5 separate regions of the Homo sapiens genome follow, and regions 1, 2, 3 and 4 are each linked to region 5. The links come from fine-mapping of genetic effects on gene expression. A gene starts in region 5. Each other region holds a variant in brackets. All regions are shown on one strand. Distances are between the middles of the regions.

The links.
Region 1: its variant is fine-mapped to the expression of CEACAM19 in esophagus muscle (GTEx, PIP above 0.99).
Region 2: its variant is fine-mapped to the expression of CEACAM19 in whole blood (TOPMed, PIP above 0.99). The same link has a PIP of 0.9 or more in blood mononuclear cells.
Region 3: its variant is fine-mapped to the expression of CEACAM19 in whole blood (TOPMed, PIP above 0.99).
Region 4: its variant is fine-mapped to the expression of CEACAM19 in tibial nerve (GTEx, PIP above 0.99).

Annotation. Positions count from the first base shown.
Region 1 is chr19:44,624,751-44,628,868 of GRCh38, forward strand. IGSF23 (immunoglobulin superfamily member 23) reads left to right here. Exons shown (of 5, transcript NM_001205280.2): 3 at 2,670-2,823. Among named protein-coding and RNA genes, the nearest start is that of IGSF23, 13 kb to the left of the region's middle. The variant T/C (reference allele first, on the strand shown) is at 2,503.
Region 2 is chr19:44,552,142-44,556,259 of GRCh38, forward strand. It overlaps the pseudogene CEACAM22P. Among named protein-coding and RNA genes, the nearest start is that of CEACAM20, 25 kb to the left of the region's middle. The variant G/T (reference allele first, on the strand shown) is at 1,854.
Region 3 is chr19:44,616,336-44,620,453 of GRCh38, forward strand. All of the region lies in intron 1 of IGSF23 (immunoglobulin superfamily member 23), which reads left to right. Among named protein-coding and RNA genes, the nearest start is that of IGSF23, 4.8 kb to the left of the region's middle. The variant C/T (reference allele first, on the strand shown) is at 2,500.
Region 4 is chr19:44,640,694-44,644,800 of GRCh38, forward strand. PVR (PVR cell adhesion molecule) reads left to right here and starts at 3,217. Exons shown (of 8, transcript NM_006505.5): 1 at 3,217-3,482. The coding sequence starts at 3,404. RefSeq lists a silencer at 3,169-3,248. The variant C/T (reference allele first, on the strand shown) is at 1,624.
Region 5 is chr19:44,669,521-44,673,638 of GRCh38, forward strand. CEACAM19 (CEA cell adhesion molecule 19) reads left to right here and starts at 1,962. Exons shown (of 8, transcript NM_001127893.3): 1 at 1,962-2,466; 2 at 3,076-3,444. The coding sequence starts at 2,412.

The DNA of each region.
Region 1 (4,118 bases), 45 kb before region 5:
AAAAAATGCAGATCAAAATCTAAGGAGTGGGCCAGGTGCAGTGGCTCACACCTGTAACCCCAGCACTTTGGGAGGCTGAGGCAGGAGGATCACTTGAGCCCAGGAGTTAGAGACCAACCTGGACAACATAGTGAGACCCTGTCTCTACCAAAAAAAAAAAAAAAAAAAAAAACTAAAAATTTAATCAGGCATGGTAATGCCACCTGTAGTCCCAGCTGCAATGGGAGGATCACTTGAGCCCAGGAGTTTAAGGCTACAGTGAGCTGTAATCGCACCACTGCACACCAGCCTGAGTGACAGAGGATGACTGTCTCAAAAAAAAAATCACCATTGTCATCATCTAAGGAGTGGTTCAAAGCAATGGCTTTGGAATTTGAATCCCTGGCTGTGTGACTCTGAGCCAGTGCCTTGACTTCTCTGTGCCTCAGTTTCCTCATCTATAACACTGGGAAGATAATAGTGCCTACCCCAGTGTGTAGTTGTGAGCATTCAATGAGATAAGCCGGTGAATAGCTTAAAACAATAATGTCTAGCACTATCGAACACTAATGAGTGCTCAATAACCGTGAGCCAATAACACTGTTGCAATTAGCATTGTCATTATTAATTGTAGCTATTACCATATACAGTCGGTATATGGAGCCCTAGGTGGCAATCAAAATGACAGCAAGTTGTTGAGATCAGAGAAGTGGTTTGGGACCTGGTCAAAACTCAGTTCAGTCCCTGTTCCCGTGCCTTCCTGGCTGGGTAACTTAGCGCAAGTGACTTCCCCTCTCTGAGCCCCAGTTTCCTCATGTGTATAATGGAGGTAATCCTATATACCTCTTCAGGGTTGTTATAAGGAACGAAAACAAGGGGTGACTGAGTTTGGCAGAACAACTGTCAGGCAGCAGGTGCCTTGAATAGCAGCTGTTATGGTGAATATTGTTTTTAGTGTGTTATTCATGGAGGGACACATGGTGATATGGTTTGGCTGTGTCCCCACCCAAATCTCATCCTGAATTGTAGCTCTCATAATCCCCATGTGTCATGAGAGGGACCCGGTAGGAGGTAACTGAATCATGGGGTCAAGTTTTTCCCATGCTGTTCTCGTGATAGTCAATAAGTCTCACGAGTTCTGATGGTTTTACAAAAGGCAGTTCCCCTGCACACATTCTCTTGCCTGCCGCCATGTAAGACATGCCTTGCTCCTCCTTCACCTTCTGCCATGATTGTGAGGCCTCCCCAGCCATGTGGAACTGGGAGTCCATTAAACCTCCTTTTTTTTAATAAAGTACCCAGTCTCAGGTATTTCTTCATAGCAGTATGAAAATGGACTACCATGGCTTGGAGTGAACTAGAGGTATGCAGAGGAACTGGCCAGGAGAGAAGAGAGGGAGGGTATTTGGGGTAGGAAAGAATGCATGAGTCAAGGTTCAGAGCTGGGACATGGAAATGGAATGCGTGATGGGAATCTCAGCTTGGCTGGGTCCCAGAGAACCACCTCACCTCCCTGGCCAGGGTCCAGTGGGAGCTTCAGGGCTGATGCACTGGGGGAAAAAATGTAAATCTTATATCACCTAGTGACCCTGATATTCAGTGAGAAGGACAATACTTCCAAGACCTCCTTTGCTCATTCATCAACTGCCCAGGAAATGTTTATGAGCACTTGCTGTGTGGCCAGCCCACACAGCTGGGAACACTCTGGTGACCAAGACAGCTGCAGCCCTGCCTTCACAAGACTTACAGTCCAGTGTCCACAGACAGTGATCACCAGAGTGGGCAGGGCTGGGATGGGGGAGCCCAGAGAGCTATGAGACTCAGCCTAGGAGTTAAGGAGGGCTTCCTGGAAGAAGGGACACCTGAGCTGAGAATTATGCTTAGCTGGCCAGGTACAGTGGCTCATTCCTGTAATCTCAGCACTTTGGGAGGTTGAGGCGGGTGGGTCACTTGAGGCTAGGAGTTTGAGACCACGCTGGCCAACATGGTGAAGTAGATGGTGAAGAAGATGGTGAAACCCCATCTCTACTAAAAATACAAAATTTAGCTGGGAATGGTGGCATGTGCCTGTAATCCCAGCTACCAGGGAGGCTGAGACACAAGAATTACTGGAACCCAGGAGGTGGAGGTTGTAGTGAGCTAAGATTGTGCCACTGCACTCCAGCCTGGTGACAGAGGGAGACTCTGTCTCAAAAAAAAAAAAAAAAGGAATTATGCAAGCCAAGAGAGAGAGATGGCATTCCAGAGAGACAGTGCAGCATGGACAGGCCTGGAGGCAAGAGAGAAAGAAAGGGATGAGCTTGGAAAATTGAGTGGAGTCCAGGGTTGCATGGCTATAAAGGCAGGGCAATGAGAGAGATGAGGCTGGCCAGGTGGCAGGGCCTCGAAGGCTAAGGTGAGAAACTGACTTCTGCCCCAGGGTGCTGGGAAGCCACAGCAGGGTTCTGAGCAGGGGAGGAACAGGGTCAGGTGTGAGCTTTAGAAAGATCCTCCTGGCTTCCATGTGGTAGGAAGGTGGATGGG[T/C]GCTGGACTAGGGCAGGAGAGCAGGGAGGAGAGGGGGCCAGAGACCTGGAGGATGGAAGAGAAGGATGGATTGAAGAGACACTTGGGAGGGGGAATGGCAGGAGGGAGGGGTGCACAGGGAGGGCGGGCAGATGGCTCCTCCAATCTCACCCCTCCTTGGTCCCCAGAACCCATCATGCAGCCCACAGAAGCAGAGCCCATGGAGCCAGACCCCACTCTGTCCCTGTCAGGAGGCTCTGCCATCGGGCTCCTTGCGGCTGGGATCCTGGGAGCCGGGGCACTGATTGCAGGCATGTGTTTCATCATCATCCAGAGCCTAAGGTACCTCTATCCCTCACCCCCGTCCACTGGGCAACATCCACTCAGCCCCCATGGGGCACAGAGCTGGCTCAACAAGGAAACAGAGATGAAACCAACACCCCCATCAGGGAGGGTGATAGCGACTCCTGAGGAGCCCATCTGACTCACTGGTTTCCAAAATGGGATCACAGCAACAAAGAGATAGAAGAGGACACTAGAGCTGGGCTGTCTGGCTTCAAGTCCCAGCTCTGTAACTTACTAGCAGTGAGGCTGTGGGCAAGCCACTCCCCTTCTCTGTGCCTCAGTTTGCCCATCTGCAAAATGGGGATGATAATAATAGCATCTGACTCTCTGGGTTGTTGGGTTGGGTTGTTGTGAGTGAATTTTTCTTTTTCTTTTTTTTTTTTTTTGAGATGGAGTCTTGTTCTGTTGCCCAGGCCGGAGTGCAGTGGTGCGATCTCGGCTCACTGCAACCTCTGCTTGCCAGGTTCAAGCAGTTCTCCTGCCTCAGCCTCCTGAGTAGCTGGGATTACAGGTGCATACCACCACGCCTGGCTAATTTTTGTATATTTAGCAGAGACAGGGTTTCGCCATGTTGGTCAGGCTGATCTCAAACTCCTGACCTCATGATCTGCCTACCTCAGCTTCCCAAAGTTTTGGGATTACAGGCATGAGCCACTGCACCCGTCCAGTGAGTGAATATTTCTAAGAAACTTAAAGCAGTGCCTGGAATGTGGTAAGTACTATGTTCGTCCTCTCTACACATATCTGCAGTGACCGCTCTGTGCCAGGCACTGAGGATACCGAGGGAAGAAACAGCAGAAAGACCCTGCCCTCATGGAACTTGCATCCTGGTCGGGGACACCATCAAGAAACACAATGAATGAGTGAAATATAGATAGTATATTGGATGGGCCAGGTGTAGTGGCTCACACCTGTAATCCCAGCACTTTGGGAGGCCGAGGTGGGTAGATCACTCGAGCCCAGGAGTTTGAAACCAGCCTGAGCAACATGACAAGACATCTTGTCATCTCTCTCAAAATATAAAAATTAGCCAGGCATGGTGGCATGCACTTATAGTCCCAGCTACTCAGGAGGCTGAGATGGGAGGATCACCTGAGCCCAAGGAAGTCTAGACTGCAGTGAGCTAGGATCATGCCACTGCACTCCACACTGGACACAGAGTGAGACCCTGAGTCAAAAAAGTAATAATAATAAATCTTTTAAAAAAGATAGTATGTTGGATGAGCGCTAAGGAGAGGAGTGAGGCTGGGAAGCAGGACAAAGATTGTGGAGTGGGGTGGCATTTAACGAGT
Region 2 (4,118 bases), 120 kb before region 5:
GGTGAGTTTTCTGGACTTTCTTTGCGCCTCACAGATCCCAGACTGGGAGCTGGAGAGCCTGGCAATCTAGAAATGCCAATGAGTGTAGATCCAAAAGAGGCTCAAGCAAAGCCTGCTCTAGCCAAAGGACAAGGAGCAGTAGCCTGACAAGATTTGCTAAAGACAGCAAATCTTTACAAGATAATCACTTTGCTGCTGTGATATCCCACAGAAAAGCCTGGACATTTACCCTTGCCAGCTGTACAGAGACACCCATCCCCTCCACCAGGCTGAATAAGCAGCTGGGACTGTCATCCTTGCCCAGCAGTAATGAGCACCGACCCTGCAGTGTCCATTGAGGCCACTAGGGAGCGGTAACGAGGCGTCTCTGCCCCTTCTGGGCAAGATGGTATCAGAGGATGTCTCAGTGGAAAGCCTGAACTCTGCTAACTGCCCAGAGTAACAGTTGCCCCGCCCCACCTGGAATGTCAACAGAGGCCAAATGGGGAACCTGGACCTCCATCCCCACTGGCTATAACAAGATGGTGCCCTTTTTGCCCCACCAGCAAGATGTCAGAGGAGACCTGCTATAACAGAAGATTTAAATGAGATCCAGCGTCTCATAATTTCCAAAATGTCCAGGGTGTTGTTGAAAATCACTTGTCATACACCTACATGTAATCCCAATACTTTGGGAGGCCGAGGTGGGAGAATTGCTTGAGCTCAGAAGTTCGAGACCAGCGTGGGCAACATAGTGAGACCCCATCTCTACAAAAAAAAAAAAAAAATTGACTGAATGAGAAAGACATTCCTGAAATTAAATGAGGAAAGACAATTAATAGAGATGACATGGATTGTTGTTGATGTTTTCTAACTTGGTCTTGAGTTTTCTAGGGGATTTAGTTGTAGATGTTTAAAGTGTAATTTTCACTGGTTACTTCTTTATCTTGGTGGTCGGCCTAATGCCTACATGTCTGACCTGTGACCAGGTGTCCCTCTCACAGTACACTTATTTTTTGTGTGTTTGTTTGTTTTTGAGACAGAGTCTCACTCTGTCACCCAGGTCGGAGCGCAGTGGTATGGTCTTGGCTCACTGCAACCTCCACCTCCCAGGTTCAAGCAATTCTCATGCCTCAGCCTCCTGAGTAGGTGGGATTACAGACATATGCCACTACACCCAACTAATTTTTTTTTTTTTTTAAGTACAGACGGGGTTTCACCATGTTGGCCAGGCTGATCTTGAACTCCTAGCCTCATGGGATCCTCCCACCCCAACCTCCCATAGTGCTGGGATCACAGGCATGAGCCATCACACCTGGCCACAGTACACTTGTTTATAATGGCAGACATTCTTAAGGCTTTTGTCTGACCTGTGTCCAGTTTATTTCTACAAAGAGAGCCATGCTTTAGGACAGCCCTGACCAGGAAAGACGTTAGGTTTGGATGTGTCAGTCAGGTGAGACACAGAGGAGGCAGCACAACAAAACACATGAAATAACAGGGGCAGTTTATTACTCACAGATTCCGGAGAAGACAGAGCAGCACATCTCACAGAGCCAACAGGAAGAAGAGAGTTGTCGGGACACGCACACTCAACCAGCGGGTGGGGAGCAAGAAAGAGAAAGTGAGAGACCTGTGGGCTGATGCTTTTATTGGAGTCTAAGGAAACTGCTCAGGCAGTTTTCCACAGAGAATTCTAACTGGGTTTAGAGCCAGCAGGCACAAGTTGCATGGAGTCACACTGACTGGGAGGTGATCACTGTGGCATATCTGCACAGCCTATGCAGGGTCTGGGGGTCAGGGGGACAGTCAGGTGAGTTATATCTAGCTGTTGCATAAGGAGGTGGTTAACAGGAAGTGGTAGTGTAAGGCAG[G/T]TATCTGGATCTGCCACATTAAGGATCTGGGGGGAGGCGGAGACCTGGAAACTGTGTCAAGGGTGACTAAGCTTTTCTTATGGTATGAGAAAGTCCAACTTATATTCAAAATAGATACTGAGCCAGGCACAGTGGCTCACATCTGTAATCCCAACACTTTGGGAGGCTGAGGCAAGAGGATTGCTTGAGCTCAGGAGTTTGAGACCAGCCTGGGCAACACAGTGAGACCTCCGTCTCTACAAATAAAATTTCAAAAAATTAGCTGGGTGTGGTGGCATACGCCTATAGTCCCAGCTACTTGGGGGACTGAGATGAGAGGTTCACTTGAGCCCAGGAGCTCGAGGCTGCAGTGAGCCGTGATTGCACCACTGCACTCCAGCCTGGGTGACAGAGTGCGACCCTGTCTCAAAACAATAACATTTCAAAAATTGATACTGAGTTTCTATAAAATTGTAAGAATTCACTACACTGATGTTAGAATTGTCTTAAAAGAATCTTAGAGCAGCCAACATAAAAATGCTTCAATGAACAATTACAAACACTTGAAATAAGTGAAAAACCAGAAAGTCTCAGCAAAGAAATAGAAGATATGAAAAAGAACAAGACGGAAATTTTAGAATGGAAAAGCACAATAACAGAAATTTTTTAAAAACTTAATGTTTGAGCCCAGCTGCAGAATGGAGATGACAGAGATAAAAATCAGTGCAGATAAAAGTTACCAAATCTGAACAACAGAAAGAAAATAGACTGATAAGAAGTGAAGAACAGAACTTTGGGACCTGTGGGACTTTAACAAAAGAGCCAACATTCATGTCATTGGAGACCCAGAAGGAAAGGAGGAAGTGGGTATAATGGCTGGTTTCCCAAATCTGGTAAAAGACATACATCTATGGAATCAAGAAACTGAGTAAACCCCAATGCCAGCGTGGTAATCAGGATTCTAAATATAGTCCTTCCAGATTTCTGTTCCTGATTGTTCAATCAAATGCTAATCTAGGTATTGCTTTGAAGGGATTTTGTAATTAAAGCTCAAAGTCAGCTGATCTTAAAATACAGATCATCTGGGTGGGCCTGACCTGATCAGGTGACTCTTTTAAAAGCAGATCAGATGAGAAAGTCAGAGAATCAAAACACAAGGAGGATTCAATGCATCCTTGCTGTCTTTGAAGATGCAGGGGTCAATGTGTGAGCAGGGTAGAGTGGCCTGCAAGAGCTTAGAGCACCCGCAGATGACAGCCAGCAAGGAAACAGACCTCAGTCCTACAACTGTAAGAACCTGGATTCTGGCCAGGCACAGTGGCTCATTCCTGTAATCCCAGCACTTTGGGAGGCCGAGGCAGATGGATCACGAGGTCAGTAGATCGAGACCATCCTGGCTAACATGGTGAAACCCCGTCTCTACTAAAAATACAAAAAATTAGCCAGGCATGCTGGTGGGTGCCGGAGCTTGCAGTGAGCCGAGATCGCCCCACTGCACTCCAGCCTGGGCGACAGAGCGAGACTCCATCTCAAAAAAAAAAAAAAAAAAAAAAAGAACCAGGATTCTGCCACCATCTGAATGAGCTTGGATATGGGTTCTTTCCCAAAGCCTACAGGTAAACCCCAGCCAACTCACATCACACCTTGATTTTGACCTGGTGAGAGAACCCAGTTGAGGACACTTGGACATCGAGGTACAGAAACTGAAATAGTAAATGTTATTCACTCTCTTAGTTCACCCAGAATCAGACTCTGCACTAGAATGTAAGTGCAATTAGTTTATTATTTATTTATTTACTTTTTTGGAGATGGAGTCTCGCACTGTCGCCTGCCACCACGCCAGGCTAATTTTTTGTATTTTTAGTAGAGACAGGGTTTCACCATGTTAGCCAGGATGGTCTCGATCTACTCACCTCGTGATCCACCTGCCTCAGCCTCCCAAAGTGCTGGGATTACAGGCGTGAGCCACCACACCTTAGTGCAATTAGTTTATTTTGGAGAAAGCATTGGCAGAGGTGTGGGAAAGTAAGTAAGGGAAAAGAAGGAAGCCATATAGAAAAATTAGCTCTATAGAAAACTGGAGCTCACCTCTGAAAACTGGTACAAAACACACCTCTGAGGGCCGGGCGCAGTGGCTCACGCCTGTAATCTCAGCACTTTAGGAGGCTGAGGCAGGCAGATCACCTGAGGTCGGGAGTTTGAGACCAGCCTGACCAACATGGAGAAACCCCCTCTCTACTAAAAATACAAAATTAGCCCGGCGTGCTGTCACATGCCTGTAATCCC
Region 3 (4,118 bases), 53 kb before region 5:
AGGAGCAGACGTTGTTTTTTGTGATGCCTTGTAAGAATTGCTGAACATAATTCTACTTTTTGTTTAAAAGAAATAGAAACAGCCAGGCGTGGTGGCTCACACCTGTAATCCCAGCACTTTGGGAGGCCCAGGCAGGCGGATCACAAGGTCAGGAGATTGAGACCATCCTGGCCGACATGGTGAAACCCTGTCTCTACTAAAATACAAAAAAATTAGCTGGGCGTGGTGGCGCACGCCTGTAGTCCCAACTACTCGGGAGGCTGAGGCAGGGGAATCACTTGAACCCGGGAGGTGGAGCTTGCAGTGAGCCGAGATTGCACCACTGCACTCCAGCCTGGCGACAGAGCGAGACTCCATCTCAAAAAAAAAAAAAAAAGAAGAAGGAAATAGAAACAATAACAAGCATAAAGCTTGAAAAAAAAAAACAGTAAAAGTTTCCAAAACATAGTGTTTATTTCTAGGAGTCTAAGTTTTCTGCTATAAAAATGGAAATAAATAAATATATATATATGAGTATATATGAGTAATACCATATATGTAGAGAGAGAGAGGGAGAGAGAGAAAAAGAGAGAGAGAGAGAGGGAGAAAGGTCTTGCTCTGTCACCCAGGCTGCAGTGCAGTGGCAGGATCATAGCTCACTGAAACCTCAAACTCCTGGACTTGAGGAATCTTCCCACCTCAGCCTCCTGAGTAGCTGGGACTACAGGCGCGTGCCACCATGCCCAGCGAATTTTTTATTTTTGTAGAGACAGGGCCTCACTCAGTTGCCCAGGCTAGTCTTGAACTTCTGGCTCAAGTAATCTTCCAGCCTTGCCCCACCCCTCCCCCCGCCCCCGCAAAGTGCAGGATTACAGGTATGAGCCAACACACCGGCCTACTCTTATATTAAAAAAAAAAAAAAAATGCCTATCAGGAGTGAAAGGATTAGGTGTGGTGCCCAAGAGACGCAGGGATTCTTTTTGGGGTGACGAAAATGTCCTTAAATTGCTTGAGGTGATGGTTGCCCAATTCTGTGAGTATACTAAAAGCTCTTGAATTGTACGCTTTAAATGAGTAAATTATTGGCTAAGAAAGTAGATTTTATGTGTTCTCACCACAAAAAAAATAAGTACATGAGGTAATGCATATGTTAATTAGCTCAATTTAGCCATTCCACAATGTATATGTATTTTAAAACATCACATTGTACACCATAAATATACACAATTTGTATTTGTTAATTTTAAAAAGAAAAAATAGTGGCAAGGTTATAACTTAATCAGTGTCCAGAACAAACATTATGTCACCCTTTAAAAATGTACCATTCACATTGATTTATAACCCTTTATTATTTCTAAATAAGGTGGTGAGAAAATGTTGGGTGAGGGGTTGGGTAGGAGTAAATGGAGCAAAGCAGATCCCAGAACCAGAAGACATTAGTAGTATATGGAGAGAGACACTCAACAGGAGCTGTGGGCTGGAACAGAAGGACCCAGCCAACTGTAGGACTAATCCCTTCAAGCTTACTCCCCCGCTGCCCTCTCCTCTTCTGCCAACGTGCCCACTGACAGAAACCAACCAGCAGCAAAAGGTAAGGGGACCCCAACAACACAGCTCAGAGAAGTCAGCCTTTCAGGCAGCAGAGTGGAGCAGAGAAGGGTAGAAAACCAATTTTTGCAACATCCAGTATAATATACGTGCGTGCTTCAAGGGGTCAAGGAGAGGAATCAATGATTCCTCCTCCTTCCCTGCTCTTCCAAGGCGCCCTGCTCACATCCTGCACCTGCTCTGCCTTCTCAGAGCTGCCCTTCTCGGCACAGCTGAACACCTTGACCGAAGGAGCCAGTGTCCATCTTCCTGTCCCCGGAAGGCTTGAAGGCATTCTCACCACGTCTTGGTTCTGAGGGTATGACGCCCAGCCAGCAGCCATGATATTCTCCCCGAAGGGCCTCCCAGGACCTGCTCACACTGGCCGGGAGATGCTGGGAACCCAAGGCAGCCTGGTCATTAGAAAATGACGGCTCAGGACTCGGGCAGCTACACCGTCGTGCTGGAAACCAGCAGGGGACACAGGAGTGTGACGGAGCAGATCCATGTCAAGAGTGAGTGGGGCCCCGCAGTGGGAGGGGCTGACTTCTCAGAAAGCAGACCCACTGGACCTCAGAAGAGCCCACCAGGACACTTTGCATGCTGGTTATCCATTGCTCCCCAATAAACCACCCCAAAACTTAAAACATCAATCACTTATCTAGCTGGACAGTTGTTGTGTTCAGCTGTTGGGGTGTCTGGGTGTTGGCTGGTCCAGAATGACCTCCTTCATGTGCCTGGCCATGGACCAGCTGGTGGCTGGAGTGATGGGGATGAGTGGGCCACATAGCCTCCCAACCTCCAGCAGGCTATCCCAGGCTTGTTCACTCAGCAATGGAAGAGGAACAAGAGGTAAAGCTGCAAAACTCCTTCAGGCCCAGGCTCAAAACTGACCACCATCACTTCTGCCACCTTCTATTGGTCAAAGCAAGT[C/T]ACATGGCCAGCCCAGCTTCAACAGGAAGGAAAAAGGCCCCACCTCTTAAGGAGAGGAGTTGCAATGTGTTGTGGCTATTTTTTGTCGTTGTGTTAGATTGTTCTTCCATTGCTATAAAGACATACCTGAGACTGGGTTATTTATTTAAAAAAAAAAAAAAAAGAAGAAGACGTTTGATTGGCTCATGGTTCCACAGGTGGAAGTGTAATGCCAGCATCTGCTCAGCTTCTAAGGAGCCCTCAGGGAGCTTTTAATCATAGCGAAGGCAAAGGAGGAGCAGGTGTCTCCCGTGAGAACAGGAGCAAGAGAAAGAGAGAGTCAGAGAGGAAGTGCCACATTTTACAACAATCAGATCTCATGAGAACTCACTACCATGAGGACAGCGTCAAGCCATAAGGGATCCGCCCCTGTGGCCCAAACACCTTTACTGAGGCCCCACCACCAACACTGGGGATCGCATTTCAACATGAGATTTTGGCAGGGATAAATATCCACATTATAACAGCCAAGACTTGCAACAGACATTCATGAGATACGCATTCATCATCACTTGGGAAAGGTAGAGAAGGTCTGGTAGCAGCCTTCAACCTCATCTATATTTTTATCACCTGGACTCAAACTTTCATATCTGAATTAGGAAAACAAAGCCCTGAGAGTAACCAGACCCATCCTCCTTTTAGAAGATAGTCCAGAGACTGTCCTAGTCGGCTCGGGCAAAATACTCTAGGCTTAATCAACAGAAACTTATTCCCTCACAGTTCTGAAGGATGGATTGCAAGATGAAGCTGCTGGCAGGTTTCATCTCCTCTGAGGCCTCTCTTTTTTGACTTGCGGAAGGGTGCCTTCTCATTCTGTCCTTGCATGGTCTTTCTTCTGTGTGTGCACATCCCTGGTGTCTCTCTGTGTGTCCAAACTTCCTCTTCTTATAAGGGCACCAGTCAGGTTGGATTAGGACCCACCCTAACAACTTCATTCTAACTTAATCACCTCGTTAAAGACCTTATCTCCAAATACGGTCACATTCTGAGGTACTGGGGGTTAGGGTTTCAACATATATGTTTGGTGGGGGACTCAATTCAGTTCATAACAGAGATCAACTTAGTTAGGGTTCAGATTCTGATGCTCTAACAAAGACTCAAAAAGTTCCAGTGTCGGCCAGGCGCAGTGGCTCACGCCTGTAATCCCAGCATTTTGGGAGGCCAAGGCGGGCAGATCACGAGTTCAGGAGTTCAAGACCAGCCTGACCAACATGGTGAAACCCCGTATTTATTAAAAATACAAAAATTAGCCGGGCATAGTGGCAGGCGCCTGTAATCCTAGCTATTCAGGAGACTGAGGAAGTAGAATCGCTTGAACCTGGGAGTCGGAGGTTGCAATGAGCCAAGACCATGCCACTGCACACTTAGAACCCCACTTCTGCACAGAGGGGTTTTTACTCCCCTCCCAGAGAATTTATGGACCGCTGAGGTTCATCCATCTGTATTTCTGTGATTTGATGACTAATTTTGTGTGTGTGTGTGTGTGTGTGTGTGTGTGTGTGTGTGTGTGTGAGATGGAGCCTCGCTCTGTCGCCCAGGCTGGAGTGAAGTGGTGCGATCTCGGCTCACTACAACCTCCA
Region 4 (4,107 bases), 29 kb before region 5:
ACCACAAATGTGCATGGCCTTTGGCCCAGCAAATCAGCTTCTGGGAATAAATATGACAGATACTGTTACATACATGGGAAATGCCATGGACATGATGACCCAGGGAAGCACAGTTTGCAAGTACAAAAGGGCTGGAAACACCCAAAAAGCCCATCCCCTGAAGACAGTTTCAAAAATGACGGTGCATTCATGTAATGGAATAGTACACATTTGTGAATGAATGAATGAGGTAGCTCAATATATCTGCCTATGGGAAAATCACCAAGATATGTTGCTAAGTGAAAAACAGAAAGATACAGAATAATGCTACCATTTTATTTTTTAATGGGAGAGGGAAGAATAAGGAAATGGATTCATATTTGCTTAATTACACAAGCTTCCTGATGATCCTTTTGGATCCAGAAGTTTGAAAACCACAGCATCAAGAGGATGCCCATTGGGCATGGTGGCTCACGCCTGTAATCCCAGCACTTTGGGAGGCTGAGGAGGGTGGATCGCCTAAGTTCAGGAGTTCGAGACCAGCCTGGCCAACATGGTGAAACCCCATCTCTACTAAAAACACAAAAAAATTAGCTGGGTATGGTGGTGCAGGCCTGTAATTCCAGCTACTTGGGAGGCTGAGGCGCAAGAATCACTTAAGCCTGGGAGGCGGAGGCTGCCGTGAGCCGAGATCACGCCATTGCACTCCAGCTTGGGAGACAGAGCAAGACTGTCTCAAAACAAACAAACACACACAAAAAATAAGATGCCCATTGGAGATCTCCATTCACTATTTTATCAGATGATATTTCAGCACTTGAGTGAAGAAAATGTCTACAACTGGTCCAAACACTCAAGGAATTTAGACTCTTGACAGAGAAACACACAGAAGCAAGCAGATATGCCCCGAACCAAACTTGCTTTTTCTTCTAAGCCTGCTTCTTCGGAGCAGCCTCTGACCCTCCAGGGCCCTGAGAGGAGTCCCTGGAGCCACAGGAGCTTGGGAGCCCAGAGAAGTGGGGGAATCCCAGATGGTGACAGCATCATCCAGAGGAGGAACATAACGATGGCCACAGATTCCCAATTTGGAAATAACTCAGCAAAACAACACTGACAGAAAATTCAGAGATTTCCAAGAGACTAGCCTCCCTGTTTCCATTTAGAAATTCACCTACATACATCCAGGGTGAGAGACCCCAAGCATCAGATGTGTCATACACAAGCATCAGATCCAAGTTAGAGAGGGCACCCGGGGACAGAAACCTCCAAGCCAGCCAAAAGCCAAAGGAAGGATTTTACAGAAAGATACAGGAATGTGGGGCCAGGCACAGTGGCTCATGCCTGCAATCCTAGCACTTTGGGAGGCCGAGGTGGGAGGATCGCTTGCGGCCAGGAATTCAAGGCCAGCCTGAGCAACATAGCGAGATCCTATCTCTACAACAAATTTAAAAACTAGCTGGGTGTGATCACATATGCCTGTGGTCCCAACTACCCAGGAGGCTGAGGCAGGAGTTGAGCCCAGGAGGTGGAGGCTGCAATGAGCAATGATGGCGCCACTTCACTCCAGCCTCAGTGAAATAGTGAGACCCTGTCTAAAAATAATAATAAAAATAAAAAACATATAAAGATGTCAGAGCACAGGGA[C/T]CAGAGCTGTTAGTCGGCCTCATGGAGACCCTGGCCAGGACAGCCACCTCTGGGGACCAGGAAGTCTCTCAGTTTCTGTCTCTGAGGGTTTGGCTCTCTGAGTCTCTCTGTCACCTCTCATTTCTCTCTCATCTCCCTCTGTCTATGCTGTGTCTCTATCTCTTTCAATCTCTCTGTCTCTGTCTCCCAGCCCTTATCTCTGAGTGTGTCTGTTTCTCTCTCATTTCTCTCTCTCTCTCTCTCTCTTTCTCTCTCTCTCTTTCTCTCTCTCTCTTTCTCTCTCCCCCCTCCCTCCTCCCCTCTCCCTACTGCAGGCTGGTCCATAACCCTTATCTTCCCCAGACCTGATGGAGTTCTGGTATTAATCTGTTTATGGTCTGTTTCCCTCCACTAGAACACGGTCTTCATTAAAGGCAGAGATTTTTGTCTGTCTTATTTTCTGCTGTATACCCAGTGCCTGGGATACTGGCTGGATCAATAAATATATGCTGAATGAAGAATGAATGAATGACCATTCTCATGAACATTATTATTTGATGCCAACTGTAAAGCAACAATAATAATAATTGTCACTGCCACTGCTGCTATTGTTGGTATATCAGCTTTTTATTTAGTACAAACTATATCCCCGAAATTGAGCTAGGCAGTTTCTTGTTTAAGTTTTACAGACCACGCTGTGAGGTAAGTACTGTTAGTATGCCCTTTTTTCTTTCTTTTTGAGACAGAGTCTCACTCTGTCGCCCAGGCTGGAGTGCAGAGGCCCGATCTTGGCTCACTGCAACCTCTGCCTCCCGGGTACAAGTGATTTTCCTGTCTTAGCCTCCCCAGTAGCTGGGATTACAGGCATGTGCCACCATGCCGGCTAATTTTTGTATTTTTAGTAAAGATGGGTTTTTGCCATGTTGGCCAGGCTGGTCTTGAACTCCTGGACCTCTGGTGATCCTCCTGCCTCGGCCTCCCAAAGTGCTGGGATTACAGGCGTCAGCCACTGCGCTTGCTCCCCCAGCCCCCAAACTTTTTTTTTTTTTTTTGAGACAGGTCTGGCTCTGCCACCCAAGCTGTAGTGTAGTGGCGCAATGGTAGCTCACTGAAGCCTCTAACTCCTGGGTTCACACAGTCCTCCTGCCTCAGCCTCCCAAAATGCTGGAATTCAGGCCTGAGCCACCGCGCCCTACTATGCCCATTTTTCAGATAAAGAATCTGAGGGCCCTCGAGGAGAAACCACTTGCCCAACATGAGCCCTGGTCTTGTCTGACCCCAAAGCCCATGGGAAGTTTAGGCTGCGTGGAAGGACAGCCTGGTGGGCTCAGGATCTGTCCCATCACGAGTTGGAACCTCAGCTCTGCCACTCGGCAACCGCGAGCCGTTAGTAAGTTGCTGAATCTCTCCGTGTGCCTCCGTTTCCTCACCTGGAATGTGGGCGACCTCACACAGGAAGCCGCCTCTTCTAGTGGGCACCGACGGAGCGAGCGCGCGTCTGCAGCGGGACTGAGCGCCGGGAGAGACCTGCGCAGGCGCAGGCGCGCGGGGAGGGCCAGCCTGGGTGGCCCACCCCGCGCCTGGCGGGACTGGCCGCCAACTCCCCTCCGCTCCAGTCACTTGTCTGGAGCTTGAAGAAGTGGGTATTCCCCTTCCCACCCCAGGCACTGGAGGAGCGGCCCCCCGGGGATTCCAGGACCTGAGCTCCGGGAGCTGGACTCGCAGCGACCGCGGCAGAGCGAGCGGGCGCCGGGAAGCGAGGAGACGCCCGCGGGAGGCCCAGCTGCTCGGAGCAACTGGCATGGCCCGAGCCATGGCCGCCGCGTGGCCGCTGCTGCTGGTGGCGCTACTGGTGCTGTCCTGGCCACCCCCAGGAACCGGTGAGTGACCCCCGCGCAGTCCGGTGGCCCCTGTCTGGCTCCCAGCTCCGCATCCAGGCCGGGTACTCGCCCCCTTGGGTTCCCGAAGATGACGGCCCCGCCCGGCGCCACCCACCCCCCATCTCTGCCCCGGGGTTGGAAGGAACACGGTGCGAGGGTGCGAGGGCAGGACCCTCCTCTTGGCCACCCGGAGAGCGGTCGGAGTTGGGTACAGAAATTCCTCGAAATTGGCAGCAACACGGGTCGGGCACAAGACCCTCCTCTGGGCCCCTCGGAAAGGGGATGGAGTTGGGTGAGGAAATTTCCCAAAAAGGCAAGTGAATCCCGGAAAATCAGCAGATGGTGACGCATGCCGGATTACCTTACCCAGGTTCCTGCTCAGCATACCCAGGCCATAACCCAGCAGCGTGCTGGCAGGCTGGGTCTGGACGGAGGGGATGGTTGATGTTGGGGAGGAGGACAGTGGGTGACACTTGACACCATTACCCCTCTGACCCCCAATGTCTGACTCCAGGGGCCTGGCCATTCATTCATTCTTTCATTCTTTTTTTTTTTTTTTTGAGACAGTCTCACTCCATCACCCAGGCTGGAGTGCAGTGTCCTGCTCTCGGCTCACTGCAGCCTC
Region 5 (4,118 bases):
ACAGAGCACATTTGATCTCTCCTACCTCCCAGCCTCACACACACAGGCCCCACACCCTCCTTCCTGGCTCCACTCACCCAAGATATTGCAACCTCCTCAATACACCTTGATGACTATCTCAGCCTCCACATCCTTGCATTGCTATTTATGCTGCCTGGTGCACCTCATGCTGCCTCACCCCATCATCTGCCTCATTTCTACTCTTACTCCAGGTCTCAGCTCAGATGCCCCCTCCCCCAGGAAGCCCTCCCTAGCCGTCAGGTTGAATGAGGTGTGTCTCCTTGGGCTCTCCCAGACTCCTGGGCTCCTCCATCCCAGCCCTGATCACTCTGGATCATAATTGTGTGAGAGGGGTCTGCCCCCCCAAACCCTACAGGATTGTGTGCCCTACTGTGGACAGAGGGCAGAGCAGAGGTGGTCTCAATCATCACTGTGTCACCAACATCACCCAGCACACACAACTGGGCACTGGGAATGTGTGCTGGAATGAATGGAGGATGCTTTTTAAAAACTAGGCTAAGCCAGGTATGGTGAGTCACATCTGTAATCCCAGTACTTTGGGAGGCTAAGGTGGGAGGATCACTTGAGCCCAGGAGTTCAACACCAGCCTGGGGCAACATAGTGAGATCCCATCTCTACAAAACATATAAAAATTGACCAGGGATGGTAGCACACAACTGTGGTCCCAGCTACTCAGGAGGCTGAGACGGGAGGATTGCTTGAGCCCAGGAGTTGGAGGCTGCAGTGAGCAATGATCATGCAACTATACTCCAGCCTGGGCAACAGAGCGAGACCCTGTCTTAAAAAAAAAAAAAAAGAATAACACACTTGGAATAAACATGATCCAAAAAAGTACAAAACATACACTCTGGGGCTGGGTGCAGTGGCTCATGCCTATACTCCTAGTACTTTGGGAGGCCGAGGCAGGAGGATCATCTGAGGTCAGGAGTTTGAGACCAGCCTGGCCAACATGGCAAAACCCCATCTCTACTAAAAATACAAAAATTAGCCAGGCATGGTGACGCATGCCTGTAATCCCAGCTACTCAGAAGGCTGAGGCAGAAGAATCACTTGAACCTGGGAGGCGGAGGTTGCAGTAAACTGAGATTGTGCCACTGTACTCCAGCCTGGGTGACACAGCATCTAAAAAAGAAACCAATCCAAAAACTACAAAATATTCTTGCAATTATAGGTGACATATTTAAATGGTAAGACAACCAATGTTCATGAATGGAAAGACAGAGCAAGACCCTGTCTCAAGAAAAAAAAAAAAAAAAAAAAAAAAAAAAAACAGGCTGAGCGCGGTGGCTCACACCTGTAATCCCAGCACTTTGGGAGGCCAAGGTGGGCAGATCACCTGAGGTCAGGAGTTCAAGACCAGCCTGACCAACATGGAGAAACCCTGTCTCTACTAAAACTACAAAAGTAGCCGGGCGTGGTGGCGCATGCCTGCATTTCCAGCTACTCCCTGAGGTGGGAGGATCGCTTGAACCCAGGTGGCAGAGGTTGCGGTGAACTGAGATTGCGCCATTGCACTCCAGCCTGGGCAACAAGAGCGAAACTCCATCTCAAAAGAAAAAAAAAGAAAAACACGAGGCTAAGAGCTTTTTTTTTTTTTTGAGACGAAGTCTCGCTCTGTCACCCAGGCTGGAATGCAGTGGCGCGATCTCGGCTCCCTGCAACCCCTGCCTCCCAAGTTCAAGTGATTCTCCTGCCTCAGCCTCTCCAGTTGCTGGGATTACAGGTGCCCACCACCACGCCTGACTAACTTTTGTATTTTTAGTAGAGACAGGGTTTCACCATGTTGGCCAGGCTGGTCTCAAATTCCTCACCTCGTGATCTACCCACCTTGGCCTCCCAAAATGCTGGGATTACAGGCGTGAGCCACCGCACCCAGCCTGCCTCAGAGCCTTCAAGTGAGTCAGCCACAGGTGAAATCCCACCTCTGTCTATTGGCAGACTTGCCTCTTTTCCTGGGCCTCTGTTTCCACATCTGTGCAATGGGAACAGTTATTTATGGTGGCTGCTGAATGAGGCAGTGTGTGTTTGAACAAACCCAGGGGAATTGTTCAAACAGAGGCTGTTATGACTATTGCTACAGTGACTGCTGTTGTAGTCACGCTGAGTGAGAAAAAGAGGTTGAAGAGGGTCAGGGGAGGAGTCCTGGGAAGTTCCCCAGTCACCCTGAAAAACTGGTTCAACCTCTGTCTGTGCTCCCATCCCAGGGAGTATAGGTGGAGCCTCCAGAGCCCATGGACAGGGCATGCTGGGGCTGGGCCAGCCCCAGCGGTGTCTCTAAGGCACCCCTGGGATCCCCACTGAGCTGGCCTACTTCAGACAGCCAGGGCCCACCCCTCTGGCCCCCTTAGTGTCCAGCTCGTGGCCCCTTGGCATTTCCACAAGACGCCAAGATGGAGATTCCCATGGGGACCCAGGGCTGCTTCTCAAAGAGCCTCCTGCTCTCAGGTAAGGAGGAAATAGACCCTAAAGGCCAAGGGGAGAAATGGGGACTCAGCCCAGAGATTGAAGTTTCCTCTTAGAAGTAGGGAAAGATTACCTGAGAGGATGAAATTAGAATAAGATGGGGGAGGGGCAACAGAATCACAGCCTCATTGCCATTTTATCTATGGAATTTTCTATAATGTTAGGACCATGAAGGCAGGAATTTATGTATGTTTGGTTCCCTGCTATATCTCCAGTGTCTAGAAATTGAAGGAAGTTTAGATGTATTACATATAGTTGGTATTATAGCTTATATATTACATATGCCTATAAGTATTGGTTGAATAAATGAATGAATGAATGAATTCAGAGAGTCCATGTGTTTAGAAGCAGGCCACACAGCATCTCAAGGTAGAAAAACCTCTGGATCAACAGGATGGCAAATCTGTGGTAACCATGCCTGTGTTCCCACTCCTGCACCCAGGGCAGACATCACTAATCAATCCCAGCATTGTTTCCAATGAGCAGCACTCAGAGTCCTTGCTCCCCGCTGAAGATCTGTATCTAGAGAGGAGCATGCCATGGTCCCTGGCAACACCCCTGATCTCAGCCCTTCCCTGTAACTTCCCACAGCCTCAATCCTGGTCCTCTGGATGCTCCAAGGCTCCCAGGCAGCTCTCTACATCCAGAAGATTCCAGAGCAGCCTCAAAAGAACCAGGACCTTCTCCTGTCAGTCCAGGGTGTCCCAGACACCTTCCAGGACTTCAACTGGTACCTGGGGGAGGAGACGTACGGAGGCACGAGGCTATTTACCTACATCCCTGGGATACAACGGCCTCAGAGGGATGGCAGTGCCATGGGACAGCGAGACATCGTGGGCTTCCCCAATGGTTCCATGCTGCTGCGCCGCGCCCAGCCTACAGACAGTGGCACCTACCAAGTAGCCATTACCATCAACTCTGAATGGACTATGAAGGCCAAGACTGAGGTCCAGGTAGCTGGTAAGTGTTAGGGTCTGGGGATGAGGTGAGGAAGCTAATGAGCCCTGAGCAGCTACCATGCACCAGGTGCTGTGCAAACACCATTTCATTTGGTCCTCTCATTTATTCACTTGACACATATTGAGCATCTACTGTGTACCAATCCCCAGAGATAGTCTTTAACCCTCACATGCATTAACTAATAAAATATCTATGAAATGCCCGCCTTGTGCCTGACACTGGAGAATGCACCATCTCATTTACCTTTCACATGCACTAACATTAACCAAATTTTTATCGAGCACTTACTGTATGCCTGGTTGTGAGGAATGCATCCCTCAATCTTTATGTTTATAAAGCGAGTATTTACTGATGAATCCACTCGGGGCAAAGTGTGAGGGAAAGGGTGGTGGGCAATAATGACAGCTGGCATTTCTTGGGTGATCGTTAAGAGCCAGGCACCATCTTAAACATTTTCCCTAAAGCATAGTTTCTCAGCTTCAGCACTACTGATGTTTTGTATTGGCCAGTTCTTACTAGTAGAGGGTTTGTGCATTGCAGAGATTTCAGCAGCACCCCGGCCTCTACTCACTAGGTACCAGTAGCAGCTTCCTAGTCATGCCAACCAAAAATGTCTTCAGATATTACCAAATGTCTCCACCCTGGGATAAGAATCACCCCTGGTTGAGAACCAT